5 separate regions of the Homo sapiens genome follow, and regions 1, 2, 3 and 5 are each linked to region 4. Evidence: fine-mapped expression QTL. A gene starts in region 4. Each other region holds a variant in brackets. All regions are shown on one strand. Distances are from middle to middle.

Region 1 (5,083 bases), 180 kb after region 4:
AGACACTTTATTGCTGTCTGTTAGAAAATTGTCACAATATATTGATTTTGTTAGAGAAGGAAACTCTGCAGCTAGATGCTGAAAAGTTATGCCGAATACACAAATCTGTTCTGTCTTTGATATGAATGGCACCCCTGAGATGTGATATTTTTGGGCACTACAGCCCCTGCACAGCCATAAGTAGGAGGCCTGTGGTCAAAAATGTCACCTGCTGTTGTTGTTGTTGTTATTGGATTTGCCCCTCTGGAGGCCTTTGAAACTGAGCTAGATGCACATGGATCTTCATTTTGGCCCTCTCCTCTGCATGTGCAGTACCGAGTACCTATTACACATTCAGGACTGTACTGCAAGGTAAAGCAGATAAGTGTAAGGCCTGGCCCTGCCCTAGAGGATTTCAGTCCAGGTGGACAAACTGGAGCCACCCATCTTAGCAGCTAATAAAATGTGCTGGGGCCTCCCTGAGGGATACAGGTGACACTACTGCAGACCCTGAGTGTCTTGAAAACAAAGGCTATAGTTTATTCATCTCTGGATTCCCAGGGCCTGTCCCATGTTAAATGTCCTGCAAATGTTTGCTGTTTGAATAAATGAATGAATGAATGCTACAGAGGCTCAGAGTTTGGAAAGAGTTTATAGACTTTGGTCATCAGGGAAGGCTCCCTGGATGTAAGCTGGGTCTTGAAATGGAGAAATTTGGATAGCCAGAGAGGCTGAAAGGGGACTTTGGCTTCTCAATAAAATCAGAAAATCATGTTTTGTTTTCTGATATCTCTCAGTGATAAAGGAAGCTGCTATCTTGAAGAAACACAACTTATTTGAAGATAACATGGCCTTGCCCAGTGAAAGTGTGTCCAGCTTAACAGATCTAAAGCCCCCCACAGGGTCAAACCAGGCCAGCCCTGCCAGGAGAGCTTCTGCCATTCTGCCAGGAGTTCTGGGTAGTGAGACCCTCAGTAACGAAGTATTCCAGGAGTCAGAGGAAGAGAAGCAGCCTGAGGTCCCTAGCTCGTTGGCCAAAGGAGAAAGCCTTTCTCTCCCTGGGCCAAGCCCACCCCCAGATGGGACTGAGCAGGTGATTATTTCAAGAGTGGATGACCCCGTGGTGAATCCTGTGGCAACAGAGGACACAGCAGGACTCCCGGGCACATGCTCATCAGAGCTGGAGTTTGGAGGGACCCTTGAGGATGAAGAACCCGCCCAGGAAGAGCCAGAACCCATCACTGCCTCGGGTTCTTTGAAGGCGCTCAGAAAGTTGCTGACAGCGTCCGTGGAAGTACCAGTGGACTCTGCTCCAGTGATGGAAGAAGATACGAATGGGGAGAGCCACGTTCCCCAAGAAAATGAAGAAGAAGAGGAAAAAGAGCCCAGTCAGGCAGCTGCCATCCACCCCGACAACTGTGAAGAAAGTGAAGTCAGCGAGAGGGAGGCCCAACCTCCCTGTCCCGAGGCCCATGGGGAGGAGTTGGGGGGATTTCCAGAGGTAGGCAGCCCAGCCTCTCCGCCAGCCAGTGGAGGGCTCACCGAGGAGCCCCTGGGGCCCATGGAGGGGGAGCTCCCAGGAGAGGCCTGCACACTCACTGCCCATGAAGGAAGAGGGGGCAAGTGTACCGAGGAAGGGGATGCCTCACAGCAAGAGGGCTGCACCTTAGGTTCTGACCCCATCTGCCTCAGTGAGAGCCAGGTTTCTGAGGAACAAGAAGAGATGGGAGGGCAAAGCAGCGCGGCCCAGGCCACGGCCAGTGTGAATGCAGAGGAGATCAAGGTAGCCCGTATTCATGAGTGTCAGTGGGTGGTGGAGGATGCTCCAAACCCGGATGTCCTGCTGTCACACAAAGATGACGTGAAGGAGGGAGAAGGTGGTCAGGAGAGTTTCCCAGAGCTGCCCTCAGAGGAGTGAAAGGGACAATTTGGCTGAAGTCTTTCTCTGAAAAAAGCCAAAGGGTTATAGGGGTACACTTAGGGGTTGCATGCAAGCTGTTACCAAAAAATTTTTAAGTATTTTCTTAATTTGAATAATAAAACCAGAGGAAATGCATACAGGGCATGAGCAACTGAGGCAAACCTTTGTGGACATGAATTGTTCTACGATGAATTTTTGCTTTAGTATTTTAATAAGAATTACAAAGACAATGGCATACTTGGGGTGAGAGGGAGCTGAGGATGTCTGAGGAGGGAATAGTATTGCAGGGAAGACTGAGAAAACAGTAGGATGACAGTTTTGAGTATACTCTGCACTTTTCAATTGTGCAATCTTCTTGTGCACTTTAAGGCTTTTTAATTTTGTTTGAGAATGCAAATGTATACTGTAAGTCTACCTTTACTATCTACTATGCCTACTTCACCATCTCTTAAGGACTCGGCATTTGTCCACAGTCAGACTGCAAGAGAGGGTAGGTCATGAACAGTCACCC[G/A]TGCTGGCTGTAGCCCCCACAGAGGCAATCATGCCCAATAGATTCAAGAGAAGCTAAGCGGAAATGGAGGGTGGAAGGTGTGATCTGTGGGACTGTCTGGGCCTGTTACTCATCCTGCTATCAATTTCTTATTAATTAATCTTGATGATTCTTATTAATTAATCACATTTGCAGGAAATTCAGATGAGGCAAGAAAATTTTATTGGCCTGGGTAAGACTGAAAGCATTCCAAATTAGGCTTAGACTGTGCAAAGGGCTTAGCTAAGTTATCGAGCTTAAAACCCGTCAATTAAACAAACATTATTTGAACAGTTACTGCATGCCACGCACTGTGTTGGGCTTAGTAATAAAAAAAAGAAAAGATAAGTGCTTGTTCTAGCATAAATTAAAAGGTCCAAGGGAATTTAATCTGGAAGAGAACATATGCCAATTTTTAAACTATGACAGCTTTTTTTTTTCTCTTTCCATTCAAATAGTCCTGGTTCATTCCCAGAAGGGCACAAAATGAATGAATAAATAAATAAATGAATAAAGACAAAAGCCAAGGTGTATGCTCTCAAGTTCCAAAGATGTTATCAAAAGCTGAAATCATTTGTTTGGTCATTCAGCAAGCTAATTGAGTCTCTGTTATATACCAAGCACTGGGGATACCATGGCGAAAAACAACTTTGTTCCTTCCTCCTAGAACTTACATTTTAATGGAAATAGACAAAACACATCTTCTTAACGGATGGTGACCTATAACCATTAATGTTGAAAATGGAAGAGACTTGCTTCCAAAAGATTAAAAGGAGTTGTTCTTTTCTCCTTCAGAAAAATACCAGATCATTTCCTAAAATCTCCAGTCCCAAGTATTACATCGTGGTTTCCCTCCCCGACTTTTTATTTTATTTTATTCTATTTTTTTGAGATGGAGTCTCACTCTGTCGCCAAGGCTGGAGTGCAGTGGTGTGATCTCGGCTCACTGCAACCTCCGCCTCCTGGGTTCAGGAGATTCTCCTCTGTCAGCGTCCCAAGTAGCTGGAATTACAGCCATGCGGCACCATTCCCGGCTAATTTTTGTATTTTTGGTAGAGATGGGTTTTCACCATGTTGGCCAGGCTGGTCTCAAACTCCTGATTTCAAGCGATCCACCCACCTCGACTTCCCAAAGTGCTGGGATTACAGCGTGAGCTACCTGGCCCCTCCCCAAATTTTAACATCAGATCTCAACATATTTGTTGAGAACTTGTTTAGATCATCACTATCGAGTAAATTTATGTCAGTTCTTTAGAGCATTTGCTTCACACACAGTTCAACCATTTAACCAGAAATTAAAATATCACCCTTTTCAGCCCTCCCATGAAGAATTTCTAGGTCATAAACATGAATAATACTCAGTATATGTATAATATCATATTTAATTGTTGCAACTTTTCTTGGCGTGTTTAAATCCTCATGTCTTTGAGGGATCCCACCACAGGTGAAGGAAGTAAAGACCACTTCTCCCCCAGTCTCTGCTTTCTGCAGTGCTCACTCATATCCTGGCATTTAGCATGGTGTGTTGAAATTAGGTTTACTTCTTGTCTCTCCAAGTGGCTCCTCTCTTAAAAGACAGAAACTAGGGTTTAGTCATCATTTGTGCTTCCTGCTAGAAACCCACAGCCTTGAATAATGGCTTCCTGCCTCCTTGAGTCACTTTAATATCCCTGGTGCATAGGACCTGGCATGCGTCAGGCTGCTCGGGAAATGTGGGAACTGGACACCCAGAACACTGCTGTGCTGGGGCTATTTGGGGCCTGCTGTCAGGCAGAAAGACGTTTTGAATTGGGCTTTCTGCCCTTGTTGAGTTTTCTCTTAAGTAAAGTCCAAAGTCCAAGGGGCAGATGGCCAGATGCACTGCCCAGTAAGGCAGGAAGCCAAAGAGGCAGTGCCCAGCCCCACAAAGGCTGCCCGACTCCCTGGGACAGTAGTGTGGAGTCCCAGCCCAGGCTGACCTCACACCGGAGCTTCCTAGCTTCCTTTCTTTGCTCAATGCAGGGCTTCTTGCACCCCCTGGAAAGCTAAGAGATTTTTTTCAACCCTAAAAGAGAGTACCTTTCACTGCATTGGATGGATGAACATCAGTGCCCTAACTTTATCCATCATGTAGGTCAGGGAGGACTGGGCACTATTTGGCAGGATGTACTCCAGAATATAATCAAAGAATTTTCTGTACATATTTCACTAAAGACAAGTTTTTGGGCTGGATGTGGTAGCTTACACCTATAATCCCAGCACTTTGGGAGGCTGAGGTGAGAGGGTCACTTGAGCCCAGGAGTTCTAGACAAGCCTGGGAAACATAGCAAGATCTCATCCTTACAAAAAATAATAATGGTGTGTGCCTGCAGTCCTAGCTACTTGGGTGGTTGAGGCAGGAGGATTGTTTGAGCGAGGGAAGTTGAGGCTGCAGTGAACTATGATTTTACCACTGCACTCCAGCTTGGGCAACAAAATGAGACCCTGTCTCAAAAAAAAAAAAAAAGTTTTCTAGAATAAGCAGGATGATTGTTTAATTTGAAGATGGAACAGGAAACTAGAGTGCATTTAAAATACTCTGTCTTCATTTTAACATGTTGAATGGAATAACTGCATATCACCATGAGTTTGTTTTGCTTTTCATACAGACTTGTATGTGTCATTTGAGTGGTTTC
Region 2 (5,104 bases), 46 kb before region 4:
CTGTACCTTTGATTTTCTGCAGTGGAATATGATATGCCTAGGTATAGCTTTTTTAGTATTTATGCTTTTTGGTGTTCTCTGAGCTTCCCAAATCTGTGGTTTGGTGCCTGACATTAATTTTGAAAAGCTGTCAGTCATTCGTTCAAATATTGCTTCTGTTCCTTTCTCTCTTTCTTTTCTTCTGGTATTCCCATTACACATATGTTATACCTTTTACAGTTGTCCCACAGTTCTTGGATATTCTGGAGTTTTTTCAGACTTTTTCTCGTTTTCAGTTTTGGAAGTTTCTATTGCGATATCCCAAAGCTCAAAGATTCTTTCCTTAGTCATGTCCAGTGTGCTAATGAGCCCATCAAAGGCATTCTTCATCTCTGGTAGTGTTTTTGATCTCTAACATTTCTTTTTGATTCTCTCTGAGAATTTCCATCTCTCTGCTCACATTACCTACCTGTTCTTGCATGCTATCAACTTTATTCATTAGAGCCCTGAGCACATTAATCATAGTTGTTTTAAATTCCTGGTCTGATAATTCCAACATCCTTCCATATATGAGTTCTGTTCTGATGCTTGTTCTGTTTCTTCAAACTGTGTTTCTTGACTTTTAGAATGTGCTATGGTTTGAATATGTTCCTGAAAAAGCATGTGTTGGAAACTTGATCCCTGATGCAACAGTATTGGGAAGTGGGGCCTAATGAGATGTGATTATGCCATGAGTCTCTGCCATCATGAATCGATTAACGCTGTTATCACAGGAGTGGGTTCCTTATAAAGGGAGTTCAGTCCCCCTTTTCATTCTGTCTCTCTTGCCCTCTTGCCTTCTGCCAGGGAGTGATGCAGCAAGTAGGCCCTAACTAGATGCTAGCCCCTCAATTTTGGACCTCCTAGCCTCCAGAACCATAAACCAGTACATTTTTGTATACTATAAATTATCACTTTCAGGTATTCTATTGTAGCAGCACAAAACAGACCAAGATGGTGTGTCTTGTAATTTTTTACTTTCTTTGTTTCTTTTTAGAGATGGGGTGTTGTTATGTTGCCTAGGCTGGACTCAAACTCCTGGGCTCAAATGATTCTCCCACCTCAGCCTCCCAAGTAGCTGGGACTGTAGGCATGCACCACTGGGCCCAGCTATTACCTTTTTCTTGGCAGATGGACTGGATGTATTGGGTAAAAGGAACTGAGGTAAATAGGCCTTTAGGAATGTAGTGGTAAGTTGTGGGGGAAGGGGAAGCATCCAATAGTCCTGTGATTAGGTCTCTCAATCTTTTAATGAGTCTGTGCTTTGGACTGTGAATTCCACAATAATAATTTTTTCTCTCCCTTTAGTGGGACAGAATTGTTAGAGTGGCTGGAGTTGAGTATTTTCCTTTCCCAGGTTGGCTAGCCTCTGAAAAAAGCCCTAATTGTTTAGGCTCTTTAAAATAGTTTCTCTTGAGGTCAGGACTTGTTAAAACAGAATGCTCTGGTATATTTCAAATTATACTTTCCTCATTCCCCTTCTAGAAGCAGGTGGGGATTTTTCTCCAATATGCATTGTGAAGATCTGGTCGAGCTCTTGGAGGTAAAACTCACAAAAGTGTGGGGATTCCTCCATGACTGGGTCCTCCTTGAATTTTTAACTCTCAGGATTGTCTACACTGGGCCTCCATTGATTTGTCAATTACAGTTCAGGTCTTCCTATCTCAGACTGGTTTCTGTGGCAATTTCTGCTTCTAGGTTTCTGTCCCAGGAACTTGTAATTCCCTGTATTCATCTGTCCGTTTCTCCAAGCTTGGGCGAGCAGTTTGCCATGTGACCTCACTTCTCTGATGGGTTTAAGAAGAGTTATTAATTTTTCAATTTGTTCATCTTTTTACTTTTTGGAATGGAGCAATGACTTCAAAGGTGCTTATCTACAGGACTGAAAACCCAATTTGCCTTTTTAATTATCTTAATGGTGTCTTTTGATGATCAGAAGTTTTAAATTTTGATAAAGCCCAATTTATCCTTTTTTTTCTTTTATGGTTAGTTCTTTTGGTGTTCTGAGAAGTCTTTGCCTATCGCAAGGTTGCAGAGATATTCTCCTATGTTTTCTTCTAGGATCTTTGTAGTTTTATGTTTTATATTTCATCTGTGATTCATGTCAAACCAATGTTTGTCTATGCTGTGAGGTAGGGTCAAGCTTTATTTTTTTCCATACATTTTTATAGCTGTTTCAACCTCAACTGTTTAGAAGAGTTCCCTTTCCCATTGAATTGACTTGGTGCCTTTGTAAATATTCAATTGACTGTATATTTTTGGGTCTATTTTTGGACTTACTATTCTGTTCCATTAATCTATTTGCCTATTCTTATGCCATAATCATGTTTCTCTTTAATATACAAATTAAATCATTATGATTTCAGTTTCACCTTTTTAAAGATTACCCTTTGGAGTTTACCCTACCCTACCCTCTGCCTTAAAACTCAGGATACACACTCATTATTGAGGTCAGTCTTGTTTTCATGTAACTAGTTCAGAGAGAAGCAGAGACTGTAATCAGCCCACCAACTAGTGTCTTTTGTTGCTGCCCTGGCTGTAGTCTGTTGTTCCTGGAAACACAGAGTCTCACACCGCCAGAGATCATCACTGTCCACTGCTGGAATGACCACGGTCCTTAACCACTGCTTGTTGGAGCTGCAGTTTTTTAGAGCATAAGGAGGAAAAAGGAGATATCGCCTTTACTATTATGATCATCATGCCACTGATGAGTCCTCTTCTTTAATATACACTCTTCTCCACAGCTATTTTGACCAAGCATGCCCCCAGTGCTATGGTGATTGAATCAAGAGAGTCTCTGGCCTCATGTTACTCCTCTGGAGCCTTATAATATGCCCAGGTGCTCCAGCTTCTTGGGGTGCTGGGTCTCCTTTCCTTCCAGGTGAATTCAAGTGAGACTATATATCTATATCTCTCTAAGATGTTGTAATAACCTGGAGTCTCAAAAGAGAAGAGGTTGATATCTGTATCCATTTTTCTCCCAGGAGATTTCTTCTAAGGTCTATATTGGAAAAAATTTCCTCTCCTTCCCAGAACACAAAATAAGCTCCCCAAA[G/A]TATCATTATACTACAGGTAGTGAACTGATGGTCACAGGCCACATCTAGCCTGCAGCTGTGATTTGTTTTCCTGTCAGTGTTTTCTGGATTCGAGCCAATATTCTAAAATGGAGAGATTTTTAGTTAACAATATAGATAACCTAGCTTCCACACGACCCGGGAAAACTGGATCTGCATGCTGCATGGCCTCTGTTAATTGGAACTGAGTTGGGTTTACTCACTTTAGATCTCGCTTAGAGCCCTAGTCACTTATATCTAGCTTTCTTCAGTATCAGCCTGGCTCCTAAAGCATTGCATTTGTGAATTCTCTATCGAACCTGAGAATAAGTGTTCACTCCTTGTCACACATCCACATAACTAAAAGGAACAGGTCACATCATTGATCTCTGAACAAAGCTCACCACCACAGTAGCTTCTAAATAGCTACCACTAGACTTAGAAGTAGCTGACAGCTTTAATAATATCTGTTTTTGTTAACAACAAAAAGTTTAGATTTCCACTTCACCCTGCTACATTTATTCATCCAACAAATACTTATTTAGCACCTACTTTGTGACAGGCACTTTTTTCTAGGCGCTTGACATACGTCAGAGCACAAAGTAACAAAAGTGCCTGCCTTTGTGACACTTGTAGTGCTTTTGGAAAGATAAACAATAAACAACTGTCATAGTAAATGTATTAGCTATATAAAATATTACAAAGTGTGGCAGAGTATACAGTGAATGCTTGCCAAATGACCCATGTACTTTCTTATATTTCTTAGCCAGAAAAAACTGAGCCCTGGAGTATTCCAACATTAGGAGGCTGGGAAAGAGATCAGCAAGGGAGCCTGTGAAGGCACAGGGAGTAAGGAAAGTGAAAAAGAGGAGAGTGGGGCATCCTGGAAATCAAGTGAAGAAAGGCTGTTAGAAAGACAGAATGATCTATTGTCAGATGTTGCTGACAGGCCAGGTAGAAGATGATTAGACCATGAGATTTAACCACGTGGAGGTCATTGGTGACCTTGACAAAAGCAGTTTTGATTGGGACAAAAGCCTGATTAGAATGGGTTTAAGAGAGAATGGGTGAACAGAAATAGGAGCGAACCACAATCTAGACTAGCAAAAGGAAGCAGGTAAATCCTACCAGGGAAGGAGTCGTGAGATGGAAACATTGTTTTTTCATTTCATTGGTGTTGGTGGGTGTTTAGGTTTTTTTTCTTTTTTTTCTTCTTTTAAGATGGAGTCTCGCTCAGTCACACAGGCTGGAGTGCAATGGCACAATCTCGGCTCACTGCAACCTCTGCCTCCTAGGTTCAAGCAATTCTCCTGCCTCAGCCTCCCGAGTAGCTGGGATTAAAGGTGGGTGCCACCATGCCTAGCTAATTTTTGTATTTTTAGTGGAGATGGGGTTTCACCATGTTGGCCAGGCTGGTCTCGAACTCCTGACCTCAAGTGATCTGCCCATCTTGGCCTCCCAAAGTGCTGGGATTATAGGCATGAGCCACTGCACCTGGCCTGTTTTTTTTTTTTTTTTTTTCCTTGACATGGTGCCTTGCTCTGTTGCCCAGGCGTGGTGATCATAATAGCAAAGGTGATACATCCTTTTTCCTTCCTTTTTTTTTTTTTTTTTTTTTTTGAGACAGAGCCTTGCTCTGTCACGCAGGCTGGAGTGCAGTGGCGCGATCTTGGCTCACTGCAACGTCCACCTCCTGGTTTCAAGCAATTCTTGTGCCTCAGCCTCCTGAATAGCTGGGATTACAGGCATGCACCACCACGCCTGGCTAATTTTTGTATTTGAAGTAGAGATGGGGATTTACCATGTTGGCCAGGCTGGTCTTGAACTCCTGACCTCAAGTGATCTACCTGCCTTGGCCTCTCAAAGTGTTGGGGTTACAGGCGTGAGCCACCATGCCTGGCCGGTGTTGGTGTTTTTTAAGAAGGCAGACCCATGAGCAAATTTGTATGCTGCTGGGAACAAGTCTAATAGAGGAAAAACCTGAGAGTGTTGAAAGAGAGAAGAGAGAATTACTGGAATGATACCCTTGAGTA
Region 3 (5,104 bases), 40 kb after region 4:
TACTAAGGGCCAGGCACAATGGCACACACCTATAGTCCCAGCTAGTTAGAGGCTGAGGCAGGAGCATTGCTTGAACCCAGAAGTTAAAGGTTGTAGTACACTGTGATTGCATCTATGAATAGCCACTGCACTCCACCTGGGCAACATAGCAAGAACCTGTCTCTCAAAAAAAAAAAAAAAAAAAAAAAGAATCCAGCTATTAACAGAAGTCAGCAATGAATACCAAGGTCCTCAGTATTACATAATATTTATTGCTTCCTTGGATGAACTTATTAATTTCTTATAAAGAAATGCGCCCGTATAAGGAAGAAAGGAGCATAGGAGGAAAGGGATAGGATGGAGAAGAGTCTTGTAGTGTGACTTCATATAAGTCCCTCAGTTTCTTTACTTGAAAACATCTTTATATTAATCATGGGGATGAGTTTTATTAATGTGGGGTAGTGGGCTGAAGAATGCTCCCCAAAGATGTCAGGTCCTAATCCCTGGAACTTGTAAATGTTACCTTATTTGGAAAAAAGTGTCTTTGAGGATGTGATTAAGTTAAAGAACTTGAGATTAGGGGATTAAATGCAATCACATATATCTTTATAAGAGAAAAGCAGAGGGAGGTTACACACACACACGCACACACACACGCACGCACGCAGTGTGAAGACTGAAGCAATATGGAGTGATGCAGCCACAAGCCCAGGAGTCCCAGTAGCTACCAAAGCTGGAATAGGCAAGGAGTGGAGCCTCTGAAGGGAATGGCCCTGCCAGAGGGCAGGTGGGCCTGCTAACTCCTTGATTTCATCCCAGTGATACTGACTTAGACTTCTAGCCTCCAGGACTGCAGAGGAAGTTTCTGTTCTTTTTAAGCAATGAAGTTTATGGTAATTTCGTATAGCAGTGGCAGAAAACTCACCAGGAGGCAACAATACAGGAACATGAGAAATATGAGGCCTGACAGAGAGCTCCTTTGGATGGCTGTTCCTCCCCACTTCCCTTGGAAAGCTTGCTCCTTCACTCTCCAGGGGATCAAAACCTGGGAGACTGTCTGCTGCTGAAACTACACTCCCGGAATCTGTGAGTTCTCCTGTTGTTCTTTTTCCCTCAGGATCCTCCATTTCCAGCATCTATCATAGTCCAAGCAGAGCACATAAGCACTCTTTTGGAGTACATATGGCTTTCATGGTCTGGTGATGGAATCTGGGAACACAGTTATGTTTGGATGAGGTCAGTTCTGAGTGGCAAGCTCATGTTACTTAATTAGTTTAGCATAAGTGTAAACCTTTCAATAGACGCTTAGTTTCCCCTGTTTTTTTTTTTTTTTCATCTATCACAAAAATAGGTTGGGTTAGATATAGCTGTGGTTCGTCAGCTCTGAAATCCTGCAACTCTCTCACTAGTCTGCATTTGCCTTCACCTGTGAGCCTGTCTCCCGTTTGTCCCAGGGAAACTCTTCTAACATGAAATCCAAGTTGAGCTCTCTCAGCTATGTAGGTTCCTGGAAAAGGATTGGTTTTCATTCTGGATTTTAAGTCAAAACTTAAAAAAAAAAAAACCCTAACTCTTGACTTAGTTGGTGTCCCTAGATTCAGACCTTGAAATTTACCCAACTAGGCTTTCTTTTTCCCAGGTACCTATGTTGTACTCAGAACTGTGAACAAAGCTTGATCAAGCCAGTCTGAATTTTTGCAAATTTTCATCCCCCTTTTATTTTCACATTTAAAAAAATATATATATTTCTATGTATTAAATGTTGCTTGCTTTAGACCTTCCAAGCTCAATCAGATCAACGTTAGATTATTGCCCCTTTCTTTTATTTGCTGGATCTTATTATTTTTAAGACAGGGTCTCACTCTATCACCCTGGCTGGAGGGCAGTGGCACAATCATGGCCCACTGCAGCCTCAACCTCCTGGGCTCAAGTGATCTTCGCACCTTGGCCTTCTGAGTAGCTGGGACTACAGGTGCTTGCCACTGTGCCCAGCTTTTTTATTTTTATTTTTTGTATAGACAGGGTCTCACTGCATTGCCCAGGCTGGTCTCGAACTGCTGGGACTCAAGTGATTCTCCCACCTCAGCCTCCCAAAGTGCTGGGTGAACCACGATTCCCAGCCTCGGATCTTATTTTTTATTTCCCTCTGAAAATCTCTACCTCACAGACAGAAGCTTTGATTGTATGACAGCTGTAGTATGTGACATTTGCTAAAACTTAAAAAAAAAATGTCTGCTATTAAATGATGGTCTAAAAATAAATTTCAAATTGATTTTCCTTTTTTTGAGACAGATTCTTGCTCTGTTACCCAAGCCGGAGTGCAGTGGTGTGACCACGGCTCATTGCAGCCTTGAGCTCCCCGGCTTAAGTGATCCTCCTGTCTCAGCCTCCTGGGTAGCTGGCACTGCAGGTGCATGCCACCATGCCCGGCTAATTTTTATTTATTTATTTATTTATTTTTTGAGATGGAGTCTCTCTGTCTCCCATGCTGGAGTGCAGTGGCATGATCTTGGCTCACTGCAACCGCTGCCTCCCAGATTCAAGCGATTCTCCTGCCTCAGCCTCCTAAGTATCTGGGACTACAGTCATGCGCCACCATGCCCGGCTAACTTGTGTATTTTTAGTAGAGACAGGGTTTTACCATATTGGCCAGGCTGGTCTCAAACTCCTGACCTCGTGATCCACCCGCCTCAGCCTCCCAAAGTGCTGGGATTACAGGCGTGAGCCACTGCTAGTGGCCATTTATTTATTTTTGTAGAGATGGAGTCTTACTGTGTTGTCCAGGCTGGTCTTGAACTCCTGGCCTCAAGTGATCCTCCTACCTTGGCCTCCCAAAGTGCTGCGATTACAGGTGTGAGCCCCTGAGCCAGGTCAATTTCAACTCTTATTTTGGATTCAAGGGGTAGATGTGCAGGTTTGTTACATGGTATATTGCATAATACTGAGATTTGGGGTACAATTGATCCCATCACCCAGAGAGTAA[G/A]CATAGTATCCAATAGTTTTTTTAACACTTGCCCTCCTCCCTTCCTTCTCCCTCTAGTAGTTTCCAATGTCTATTGTTGCCATCTTTATGTCCATGAGTACTCAATGTTTACTTCCCACTTATAAGTAAGAATATGTGGTATTTGGTTTTCTGTTCCTGCATTAATTCGCTTAGGATAATGGCTTCTAGCTGCAATTATGTTGCTGCAAAGGACATAATTTTGTTACTTTTTATGGCTGCATAGTATTCCATAGTGTATATGTACCACATTTTATCCAATCCACTGTTGATGGGCACCTAGGTTGATTCCATTCTTTTATTGCCTCTTTCTTGAACCCATGATTTCCCATATGCATTCTGAGATCCCTCACAGCTCTCATCTTCCTCTTCCAACTTCCAGTAAAGGTTCGGTATGTTCCTGCTTCACACAATGTCAGGGAGGTCAGTTGGTTCTCAGACCCCCATCATTGTGAACCAGCATTGGCATTCACCAGAATACTTGGAACACAACTTTCTTATGAAACATTCTTTGAGTAGCTGCTATAAACCAGGCATTTCTATAGCGAGTGTTGAAACTTATGTTAGACTGTATAAGATTCAATTCTTGTTTTAAAATGTCATTGTAATAGAGAAAGTAAGATAACCACACAAATAATAATAAGATGAAGTGGGTGCTGCTGTAATATTGATGGAAATAGCCGCAGATACAAAAGTTGATAAAACTACATTTCATTTCCTAACAAGGCATTTGCCATGGATGTGAACTTATGAACATCAGTTTTCTTACATGCCCAGGGGTCTATGGAGGCCTTATTTGTGTATGAAGATGTGGTGTGGAGTAAATGATATAAATGCATGTGAAAGTGCCCAGCACTATCCCTGATTCATAGTAGGGGATTGGTCAGAGATTCTTAAATACCAGAGAAGGGGTTTAAAAGGAAGAAGAGATCACAGGTGGTTTGGCAGATCCAAAAGGGCTTTGCGGAAAATGTAGCAATTAAGATAGGTCAGACTGGTGGCTCCTCAGGGCAGGGACCTTCTGAATTACTTTTCCTGTCCTTAGTATTTTATAAATAGACTGTAGTGGATATATGTTGAGTGAATGGACCTTAAAGGATGGACAGGATTCTGAAAGGTTGAACTGGACTTTGAGAAAGGGCACTGCAGCAGGGGCATAGCAGGGATGGTAAGGTGTAGGTCATGCTGTCAGAATGGCAGTCTACTTTGGTGGGAGTGTAGGGAAGTAGTAGAAGTAAGAGTGAAATGTAAGTTGGGAATATTCTGTGAGTATTGAAAGTGCTTTCATTGTTAGACTGAGAGCTTGCACTTTATCTAATTACTCTTTAATTTTTGTGTCTCTAGTCAAATTTAGGAGGAGGAGATTTTTGTTATGCTTTCTGCATTATTGAGAGTTTACCATTATAATTGCCATCTGTCGTGTTTCTCTTTTTTGTCAGAAGGGTTGTAGGCAATCTTTGGCTGGGATAAACAGATAGTTTTTCTACTCACTAAAGAAAATAGATGCAGAGAGACTGGCACTAACAAGGAATAGAGAAGGAGATAGTTTTTTCTTTGCTTATGCCTAAATCTTGTCTTTGTTAAATATTATGTTATACATTATTCATAACTTTTAAGCTTTTAAAAAATCAAAATTTAAGTCAAATAAGTCAAATATACAAAAGAAAAGAATATGTGAGCCTATGACTTTCCATGTGTTCTAGACCAGGAGTTCCCAACCGCCAGGCCATGGACCAGTACCGTCTGTGGCCAGTTAGGAACCAGGCCTCATAGCAGGAGGTGAGCAGCAGATGAGCAAGCGAAGCTTCATCTGTATTTACAGCCGCTCCCCATTACTTGCATTACCACCTGAGCTCCACCTCCTGTCAGGTCAGCGGCAGCATTAGATTCTTATAGGAGCACGAACTCTACTGTGAACTGTGCATGCAGGGGATCTAAGTTCATGATCCTTATGAGAATCTAACTAATGTCTGACAATCTATCATTGTCTCCCATCACCCCCAGATGGGACCGTCTAGTTGCAGGAAAACAAGCTCAGGGCTTCCACTAATTGTACATTATGGTGAGTTGCAAAATTACTTCATTATATATTACAATGTAATAATAATAGAAATAAAGTACACA
Region 4 (5,104 bases):
ATTATGCTGTTTTGGTGACTGTACCCTTCTAGTATAGTTTGAAGTCAGATCATGCCATGCCAACAGCTTTGTTCTTTTTGCTTAGGATTGCACTAGCTATTCAGGCTCTTTTTTAGTTTCATCTGAATTTTAGAATAGTTTTTTTCTAATTCTGTGAGGCATGTCTTTGGTAGTTTGATAGGAAGAGCTTTGAATCTGTACATTGCTCTGGGCAGTATGACCATTTTAACAATATTGATTCTTCTTATCTATGAGCATTGAATGTTTTTCCATTTGTTTGTGTGAATCCATCTTTGTACTCTGTTTCATCCGTGAATATTTACAAATGAGTGGATAAGGGTAGATGAGGATAATCAGTCCTTTCTCAGAGTATTCCTGAAGTAGAGGTGACAAGCTAAAACTACACTTCTGGCAGGAGATCCAAGCTAGTTTTCTTCAATAACAATAACAGTATTCTGAGGCACAGTTATAGCAATTTATATAGTCAAAGAAATTACTTCTCCAAGAAGATACACTTAATTCTAGGAGCCAACTAGAGTATTGAGAGAAGAGTTCAACACTAAATATTTTAAATCATTGAGTTGTTATCTGGAAATGCTTGAGATCACAGTTTTTGTTGAGTACAGATTTTTACATTTTATTTTTCATTCATTCACTTATTCAGTGGTTATCTACTGGACACCTACTACATGCTAGGTGCTCTTCTAGGCATTTGAAATACAGCAGAGGACAGAATAGACAAAAAAATCCCTGCCATAAGAGGAAAAATAATAATAAAAAAGGAAACAGAAATTTTGAGGGAAAAAGCCCCAAGAAACAACAATAACAACAAAGAAAATCCCTGATCTTATAGAGTTTACATCGCAGTGGGGGAAGATAGACAAAGAAATATGTGTTAGATGATACTAAGTGATATGAAACAGAAATAATGAAGAGCAAGTGGCAGAGAGAGGTGATGGCTGGTGTTCCTGGGTCAAGGAGAACCTCTCTGAATTACTAGCATTAAAGTGGAGGCTTGAATGAAATGACTGAGAGAGTAACCTATGTGAATATCTGAAGGAAGAGCATCCTACAGAAATGAAAAACAAGTGCAAAGGCCCTGAGCTTGATGTGTCTCAGAAAGAGTAAAAAAAAAGGCTAGTAGGGCTGGAACAGAGAGAACAAGGAGTGGTGGTAGAGAAGATCACAGAGGAAACTCCACCTAGGCCCTGATAGACGTCGTGGCTTTTCTCTGAAGAAGGTAGATCAGTTAGGCAGCTAGTGTAATGAATAAGGTGAGGAATGATATGGGATGTCAGTAGAGGGGATGAGAATTGGTTGGCTATTGGACATATTTAAAAGCTGAATTGACAGGATTTACTGACAGATTGGAATGTAGAGTGTGAGAGATTGGGTGTGAGTGTGATGAAATAATTGTGTTAAAGTGCAAGTTAGCTAATAGGGAAGGCGGGGGTGTGTGGGAAAGCCTTCAAAGTCCTCCTCAGGCCTGGTTCTAGTGTATACAGACCATTTGACCTTGAGGTTAAGTCAATAGGAGTCGCAAAATAACTGACTACTAAGAATAGGATGAAATCAGCGGTGACCCCTCTGCCCAAGTGGGTCTTGTTCCGAGAGGCTGCCAAGCTAAATAGTGGTTGTGGGAAAAGAACAAATATCTTTTCTAATGATTGATTTCCAGTTAAGGAGAGGAATGGAAAGTAAAGGGGTAAGGACAGACGTTCATCAAGTCTTAGGAAGTTTCAGGGCTGGGAGTATATTGCAGGACCAAGCCTTAGTTTTTCCCTGTCTTTCCATTTTTTTTTCTCTTTCCTTTTTTCCTCATTTCCCCACTCCCTCCTTGGTCCAGGTTCTCGCCTGCAGAAAGGTATAGTTTACCTCTAGTTCTCAAACTTCAGCGGGCATCAGAATTCCCTGGAGGGTTTGTGCAAACACAGATTGCTGGGCTCCACTCCCACAGATTCTAAGTGTGTGTGTGTCTGTGTGTGTGTAGAGGGGTGGTGGACGAAAGCGCTGAGATTTTGTATTTCTAACAGGCTCCCAGGTAATGCTTGGGAAGAACTGTTGCTTCTTGGACAGCAACACTTACAAGGCAACGTGATCTTGAGCTCCACCTCGAAGGATGTGAGCTGGGAAAGTTCCAGCTCACAGAGATTTAGTCACTTGAGAAATGGTCCACTTCCTCCAAGGTGTTTCTTGGATGCCCCAAAGGGATGAAAACAAGAAGTGACCGTGGGCGAGGAGGAGGAGCTGGCCGACCTCCTCGGTTGCCAGCCCGTCGGAGCTCACCAGCTAGGCGAGGGCGGGAAGACAGCCCCCGGGCCGGCCCACGGATCATCAGAAGGCGCGGACCTGGAGGAGGCGCCCCAGAAGGCGACGCCTCTTGCCTCCTGTCTCTCGCCTCTCGAAGGAAGTTTGCTCTTAATTTCAGAGCCGGGTTCGCCGTCGGATCAACCTCCAGGAGCTAGCAGCGGGCGCGGACCGGGCAGTTTCCGCGCTCAGCACAGGCAGCTCGCGGTCATGGGCGGCTCAGCCTCCAGCCAGCTGGACGAGGGCAAGTGCGCTTACATCCGAGGTACGCCCGCCCGCCCGGGGGCCTGGGGAGCACCCTGACCCGTGCACCAGGCTGGCTGCCGCGGTCGGGGCCCCAAGGGGCGCGCCCCGGGCCCTCTCCCTGTAGCGCGCGGGGATCCCCGACCGCAGCCCGCCCGCGCGAGTCGGGTTTCCTGCCCCAGCCGGCGCGCTCCGGCGCGGGTGTGGACCGGGGACCGGGAGGGCTTGGGAGCGAGGCAGGTGCAGGATGCGGGTGGGGACGCCGGCGCCTTCGCCGCTCCCGCCGCCTCGGGGTCAGTGCCGCCCCCGCCCGGCGCACTTCGCCCTCCAGTACCTGCCCTGGACTGAGTTCTGAGCGGTTTCTGAACTGGCCGCCAAGAGAGCAGCGGGGATATCCCGCGTTTCTAGAGATACCCCTGGGGATTCCCGGCAGCTAAAGCAGAATTTCCCTCTTAGTAATGTTGGCCTGGCTTTGGAAAGCGCGGCGTTGGCCGCAGCTTCGCTCGCACTTCATCCTAGCACTTGCAGGATGATTTCATCAGCGGCAAAAAGGACAATGTCATGCCGTTCCCTTCCCGCCCCGGAGAGGGGCGAAGCAAAAGAGGAACACTGGCGTGCTTTGTAACTGCCCGAAAGTTACAGATGGGGAGAAACTCATTTAGGGAGACCCTCAGAGATGTGGGGACTCAGTAGAGAGCGTGAGGCTGCAAAACAAACAAAACAAAACCCAAACCGAACTGAAACTGCAGGAAGTCCTGACTCGTTATCTCCTTTATTTCCTGGGCGTATTTGGCCTCCCCTCTTCTCACCCCCCACCCCAAACTTGCCTTCAACCGCTACCTAACATTTGGTTATCTTACCAATTTACTGTCTTTCCCCCGCCCCGCCGCCAGATCCCCCACCCTCGGCTTCAGAAATATCTTCCAGACTATGTATTAAACTCTAGGTTTATTTGGCCCTTGAATCCTTTCCTAAGAGGAAATCATTTATTTGGTGTTCTTATTCCACATTTGTTTTCAGTCACCACAACATTTAAGACCGTTTTAAAAAGATATCAAATCAGGGTACGTGAAGAGCAACGGAGCTGATTTTACAGATTCCTGCTCTGGTGCTTTTGGAGGTAAAAGATCCTCAACAACCTGTACTGTCAGGGGATAACACTTGGTCAAGTATCTCTTTGCTTTTGTTTGTTAAAGGGGAAAAGACGGATGATTTATTTATATTAGTAAAAGAGCTGAACTAAGCTTAAAAGAAATAAATGAAGCCTGCCTTAGTCTTAAAAATGTGGCTACATGCTTGTGTTACCAGTGTATAGGGACTGAAAGGGCAATCAACAGAACGTAGTGAGAAAGGGCTTGCATTTGAATGTTAGCAAAGTTGTGTTTAAGGCATTTATATAAGACTTTATTTCACTGGAAAGCTTAGGAGCACCTAATGTGGACGCATGGCCAAGTACACTAATCATTTGAAGTTAAGCAATGTGAAGGATTAACATGCTTAAAGAAGACTTCCTGGCCGTGCCATTTGTTGCTATTGATGCAAACATTGTACTCAGATAATAAGAAAATGCTATTAATTTCTTTATTCTGAAAGCTATTAAATTATTACATATACAAAAGTACGAGGGAGTTAGGGCAGATGAAGAACTTGTAATGCAAGTGTTTGAATGAGTAAACCTATAGCATATGGTGTGACAGTCATTACATTTCCCAGTCTTGTTCAGCTTTCTCTCTTCATTCTATATTCAGGAGGGCACTTGCAAGGTATGTGTAGTGGGAGAGGGAAGAGAAGAGTTAAAGTTAGAATACCTCCAGGGAAAAAGACTCATCACTTCATGTGAGAATGCTAGTCTTGCCAAAAGAGAAAAGAACCTTGGAAAAATGCATGGTGTTGTACATTGTTAGTGCATGAGCAAATGAGGGTCACAGGGCTGTGATTTCCTGATGGTTTTGAAGCCCAGGTTCCTGAGTAAAATCATAGCCCTATCTTTACCTCTTTGCCCATTTTTTAGCCTATAAATATTCTCAAGCTTTGATTCAATTGTAAGCAAAACGATTGGAAGTATGACAGTAAAGTTTAAATATACTTTTATGACCTGTTTCTCATAAAGTAGCCATCAGTGAAATATAGATTTGAAAGCTCCTGAAGCTGAGACAATAACTTTCTTTTAAGCTTGATAAACTTTGCTAACAAGGAGAGTAGCTAGTCAATATATTTTGAGTGACTTTTGTTAACTTTATTTTGTATGCATCATAAACCGCTGTATGCTACTGACGCTGAATCAGCCTTTACTTTAAGACAAATCATTTAACAGCTGCCATTCCTTGTGTGCCTCAAAACATCTGTGTCATATGGATGTTTTGAAAATACATTGTTTCTTAGGATTTAGTTAATCTTCAGGTAAAGATATATCATCTACGTTAAGGAGTTACTTCATTTCTAAAGATGTTAGTTTGGGAAATTACGGCAATGCTCATGTTTCTTACAACAGAATAAATTTTTAGGATTGTTTCTAGAAGCCTTTCAGTAGTGTCCCTTGATAAGATGTTTCTAT
Region 5 (5,104 bases), 110 kb after region 4:
AGAGTTGGGGGGAAGAGACTTTTAAAATTTCAGAGTCCCTGGCATTATTCCAGACCTACGAATTAGAATCTCTGAGGAAAGGAGCCCAGAAACGTACATTTTAAACAGCATCCCTTCAGAGTTAGAGAATCGTTGTTGCCTAGGGTCTTCCTTTTAAACATAAGGTATTTTGCTTCAGCAACTTAATTTTTATTTTTCTCAAATTGTATTACTGGTAAAGATTCATGATTTTTATAATATGAATTTAATGTTTGAAGTGATATTCAACAGCACAATAAAAAAGTGGTGAATGGTGGGCCGAGCGCAGTGGCTCACGCCCGTAATCCTAGCACGTTGGGAGGCCAAGGTGGGTGGGTCATTTGAGGTCAGGAGTTTGAGACTAGCCTGGCCAACATGGTGAAAACCCATCTCTACTAAAAATACAAAAATTAGCCGGGCATGGTGGCGCACAACTGTAATCCCAGCTACTCAGGAGGCTGAGGCAGGAGAATCGCTTGAACATGGGAGGTGGAGTTGCAGTGAGCCGAGATGGAGCCACTGCACTCCGGCTTGGGAAACAGAGTGAAACTCTGTCTCAAAAAAAAAAAAAGTAGTGAATGCAAATAAAAGTAGTGAATGGTCACAATGTGCTTAGCAATTGTAAGATAAAATTAAACTCTTTATAATATTTTAGTGAGAGGACCACAACTAGACTCTTCATGGGATTTCCTTTTTGAAAATAATCCTGAATCTAATAGCAAGCACAACTGAGATACATTTTCTTTACTGAGTTTTGCATTTCCAGTGTGACCCTTTCGCTTTTTATACTGGACGATCTAATTTTACGTAAGAGCTCACTCTGGTAAGCTGTACCGTGTGTAGGTGTACATGGATGATCTCCACTAGTAAGATAAAATACCTCTCTTCTCTTCTACTTTTATCCCCTTCTTCTGTCCGAGTGAGAGGCAATGTACCACCTTTCCCTTAGACATGACCATAAAATCCCAGAGGAAAGCAATATGCCTAAAATTATTTAGTCTGTTTCCCTTGCTTGAATATGCACTGGAATTCCCTGGCCTGGGGTGGGTCCTAAGAATTTGCATTTCTGACATGTTCTCAGGTAATGCTGATGCTGATACTACTGGCCTGGGGACCCTACTTGGAAAGCCACTGTATTAACTCATTTAATCCTCACAGCAGTCCTGTGAGGTAGGCACTATTATTGTCATCATGCCCATTTTATAGACGAGGGTTCTGGGGCAGCTGGTAAGACAGCTGGTGATCAGGACAAGATTTTAAAGCCAAGCAGGCCGACTTCAAGCCCGTGTTCTAAACTACTGTACCATGTGTCTTCTCAGTCAGCAGGTACTTATTAAACGCATACTGTGTGCCCTGTGTTTGACTAGCTGATATTTTTAAAAAAAATCTAATCTCATTCCTTATTCAGGAACAGATGATTTGAGGATACTCACTTCCTACTGAACTTGACATGGATAATTTCTTGATATCTACTTGAGAGGGACATGAGCTGCTACATCAATTGAAACTCAGGTGACAATTGAGATGCAGAAGTTAAGTCTTTTCTCTGCTTTTAAACATGAAGTTGTGCCTTAACCCAAAAGGGTGTTCCTGTGGTAAACTGTGTACTCTATAAATGTTCTCCAAAGCTAGAATTTTCTTGGTTTATGCAAATGTACAGCTGAGAATAATTTTGTGGGATATGTTGCAGGGGTGGGGTTGAAAAATTCATGGTACTTATCTATTACCAGTTCTTTGTGTTTTAAGTACTTAGCCTTTATTTTTTTTTCCTTTCAGCATTTTCTTTTGTTAACTGGATTCCCATACTGGCTGTTGCTGAGGGGGTTGGGGAAGTCCTGATCTGACCTGAATTTTTTAAAACAATTTTTTAGCATTTTCTTTTGGAGACCACAAATCATATTGCAAGTCAACAACGTCTGGGTGTTAGTGGGACATTTCTATTTTAAGAGGCTTAGAAAAGGAGGTAAAAAAGAAGGAAGTTGGAAGTTAGGAAGGAGCAATGAAAGCAAAGCACCCATTTTCACATCTTACCAGACAAAGCCCCTCCCTGCCAAGTTCCTTTCTGGTGGGAGATCAGGGCATGGCTCATGCAATCACCAGCTAAGAAAGGAACTGAGACTTCTCTTCATTTGTTGTTTTTTCCTTCCCCACCTTTCCCTAGAAACTATTAGACTGCCACACTGTCCCGTTGTGTGACACGGGACACTTTAAGTGACGGGGTAGACAAAAGCTGGAACAAAAGAGCCTCTATTAAGGTAAGGGTCTACTGTGTCCAGAACATTGTCTTAGATGCTGGGGGCAAAACAAACCGAAAACACAGTCATTGCTTATAAACCAAACTCAATTTGTAAGGCTATCCCACTCAGTTAACAGAGGAGAGTTTGAGGATGATTTCCTCCTGACTTTCCAGGATAAGTGGAATAAAAGAAATAGAAAATAGATCAGGAACATCATTTTGCCTCATTCCATCTCACTTTAAGTGAACTCGGGCCCAAGCCCAAGTGGTTCTGTTCCAGGAAACACGGTGGGTCAAGCAGGATGTAACCTTATCACACACCTTAGCCATTGTCCTTTCCTTCTTAAATCCCTAGTGAGGAGGATAATAGTTGAAGATATCCTTCTTTTTTTCTTCTCCAGGCTTTAGGATATCAGATTAGGTATTTTCAAGTTGAGAACAAAAAGCCTTACCACAAAGTTGTATTCTCCTTGTGCCAATAATAATGAGTCATTCTTGCTAAGAACATAGGTGGTTTGTATCTTTCTAGTGCTTCTTGTCAGAAGAAGCTTAACATGCACAGAGGGAGAT[A/G]TTTTTCCTGGCACAATAGACCCTAGTCACAAACCACAAAGTTTTGCAATAAGGCTATTCGTTAAGTGAATGCAATATTATAGCTGAGACACTTTTGGGGTGTGTGTGTGTGTGTGTTTGTGTGTAGGGGTGTGTGTGTGTGAGAGAGAGAGAGAGAGAGACCGAGAGAGAGTGTCTGTGTGTGATGGGGGCTATACCTCAGCTTCCTGTTTGGCCTTGCTGATGTCACCGCATTAGTATCGGTACTGCACTTCAGATTTTTGTACAGATGTAAGTCATCATATTTAGTATTTGACTTTAAAATGAATTGGTTTTTGCACATCTGTGCTCATAAATGAATAACAATAGAAGGGGGAAGAAATTTTGAATTTTGATTAGATGAAAGGGGTGCAAAACTTCCACTCTTTCTTTCATAGATACCTTGCAAGCCAAAAGCTTTCTAGAATTGCTAGGTGAAGTTCTAAATATCACTAATTTTGAGATAGGCTGATTGACATTTATGATTGGGTTTGGTCAGGATGAAGGGTAGTGAAATTACCAGCATAGATGAGTGAGTTGCCATTGGTCTAAATTTTGCCATCTCTGGTTTTCTTCTGATTTCTAGTTCCATATTTGGTGGCTTTAAATGAACACAGTACTGTTCTCTTCATACCATGTATATTTTTTACCAGGTCAGGAATCTAAGAAACTTATGATCTAATTTAGATGTCTCTGGAAATGTGAATTTCATAACTTAAGAGAAGGGAACAGATTTGAAATTGAAATATTATTATAGGGAGCTGACAGTTGGGTTAAGTGGATTGTTACACATTATCATCTTAAAATTACATTTCGTGTCTTCTTAACTTTCCTCCAAAGAACACATCCTAGAATTATAACACTATTTTCAATTCCCTCTGCATCTTTCAGCCCTTAGAACTAAATCCTAAGCCAATAGCTCACTTTTGGACTCCTAAATTTGATTTTCTGAAGGCCTTAGGTTAAATGTCATTTCCACCAGAACACCTTTCTTAATCTTTCAGGTAGGTGAAAGCCCCACAATTTTCTTCTATCTGTCCATTCATCTGTCCTTCCTTCTCTCGTACCTGTCCTTACTTCCATCACAGTTCTAATCACATCATGTCATCATTGACTATTTATTTATCTGACTCCTAAAACTAGGAGTTCCTAGAAGCCAAGTCTATGCCCATCTACTATTACATCTCAGCCATTAGTACTGAGTGTAGGGGTGTAGTAAGCACATACTCATTTTTTTTTAACTGAATAAAGGAGCATGGGAAGTAGGTCATCATTTGAAAAAGCATCTGGAAATGATAAGAATAGTTAATAAAGCATTCCGGATTGTTTAGGAGAAAGGTCTATTTTACTTGTTAACAGCAAAGGCAATTTCTTTGGAAGATTTTGCTTTCTTTTTTGACTATCTGTGCAGTTACTTGTTTATTTTTCATTTTCCATCAGCTTTACAACTTTTTTTCTCATGCTCCTCATCGCCTACTATCATTTGTGTTTAAGCCTTCCTTTACATAAAACAGTATTTTTGGCTTATTATTTGGATGATTAATGAAAATCAATCTTAGCAGTTAGATTTCTGACTGAGACTGACCAGACAAAGTGAAATGTGTTGCATGATGCCATTATTTAAGTCACTGTTTTGTTGGCTGTGACCCATTAAGCATCCTTTCTTTTTGTTTAAAAATTATTTTTTTTCAGCTTGTTTTAGATTTGGGGGTACGTGTGCAGATTTGTTACATTGGTATACTGTGTGATGCTGAGGTTTGGGGTATGAATGGTCTCGTTACCCAAGTACTGAGCATAGTATACAATAGTTAGGTTTTTCAACTCTGTACCCTTCCCCCACCTCTATAGTCCCGTGTATTGTTGCCATCTATATGTCCATTGGTACTCAATGTGTGGCTCCCACTTATAAGTGAGAACATGAGGTATTTGGTTTTCTGCTCCTGTGTTAATTTGCTTATAATGGCCTTCAGCTTCCTCCATGTTGCTACAAAGGACATGATTTTGTTCTTTTTTTAATAGCTGTGTAGTATCCCATTGTGTATATATACCACATTTTCTTTGCCCAGCCCACTGTTGATGGGCACCAAGGCTGATTCCAGACTGCTTTCCACAGTGGCTGAACTAACTTACATTCCTATCTACCATGTATAAGCATTCCCTTTTCTCTGCACCTCACCAGCATCTGTTATTTTTTGACTTTTTAGTAATAGCCATTCTGACTGGTGTGAGATGGTATCACATTGTGATTTTGATTTGCATTTC

Alleles and levels. Positions count from the first base shown, and alleles are read on the strand shown. Sizes are in standard deviations (SD) of each study's normalised expression. Not every link is listed here.
With allele A in place of G in region 2, the expression in monocytes after R848 of the gene that starts at base 2,366 in region 4 is higher (moderate effect, 0.60 SD a copy in Quach 2016).

The links. PIP is the estimated chance that this variant, and not a neighbour inherited with it, causes the effect.
Region 1: its variant is the best candidate, but not a certain one, in a credible set for the expression of NIBAN1 in whole blood (TOPMed, PIP 0.83).
Region 2: its variant is the best candidate, but not a certain one, in a credible set for the expression of NIBAN1 in monocytes after R848 (Quach 2016, PIP 0.80).
Region 3: its variant is the best candidate, but not a certain one, in a credible set for the expression of NIBAN1 in whole blood (INTERVAL, PIP 0.54).
Region 5: its variant is the best candidate, but not a certain one, in a credible set for the expression of NIBAN1 in whole blood (TOPMed, PIP 0.51).

The regions. Positions count from the first base shown.
Region 1 is chr1:184,791,791-184,796,873 of GRCh38, reverse strand. It overlaps NIBAN1 (niban apoptosis regulator 1), which reads left to right. Exons shown (of 14, transcript NM_052966.4): 14 at 777-5,083. The coding sequence ends at 1,897. Among named protein-coding and RNA genes, the nearest start is that of EDEM3, 39 kb to the right of the region's middle. The variant G/A (reference allele first, on the strand shown) is at 2,412.
Region 2 is chr1:185,018,168-185,023,271 of GRCh38, reverse strand. No RefSeq gene overlaps it. Among named protein-coding and RNA genes, the nearest start is that of LINC01633, 19 kb to the right of the region's middle. The variant G/A (reference allele first, on the strand shown) is at 3,074.
Region 3 is chr1:184,932,230-184,937,333 of GRCh38, reverse strand. All of the region lies in intron 1 of NIBAN1 (niban apoptosis regulator 1), which reads left to right. LOC124904469 (a long non-coding RNA gene) reads left to right here. Exons shown (of 2, transcript XR_007066770.1): 2 at 1-5,104. Among named protein-coding and RNA genes, the nearest start is that of NIBAN1, 40 kb to the left of the region's middle. The variant G/A (reference allele first, on the strand shown) is at 2,963.
Region 4 is chr1:184,971,770-184,976,873 of GRCh38, reverse strand. It overlaps NIBAN1 (niban apoptosis regulator 1), which reads left to right and starts at 2,366. Exons shown (of 14, transcript NM_052966.4): 1 at 2,366-2,572. The coding sequence starts at 2,518. RefSeq lists a silencer at 2,582-2,901 and an enhancer at 3,012-3,181.
Region 5 is chr1:184,865,033-184,870,136 of GRCh38, reverse strand. All of the region lies in intron 5 of NIBAN1 (niban apoptosis regulator 1), which reads left to right. Among named protein-coding and RNA genes, the nearest start is that of NIBAN1, 110 kb to the left of the region's middle. The variant A/G (reference allele first, on the strand shown) is at 2,825.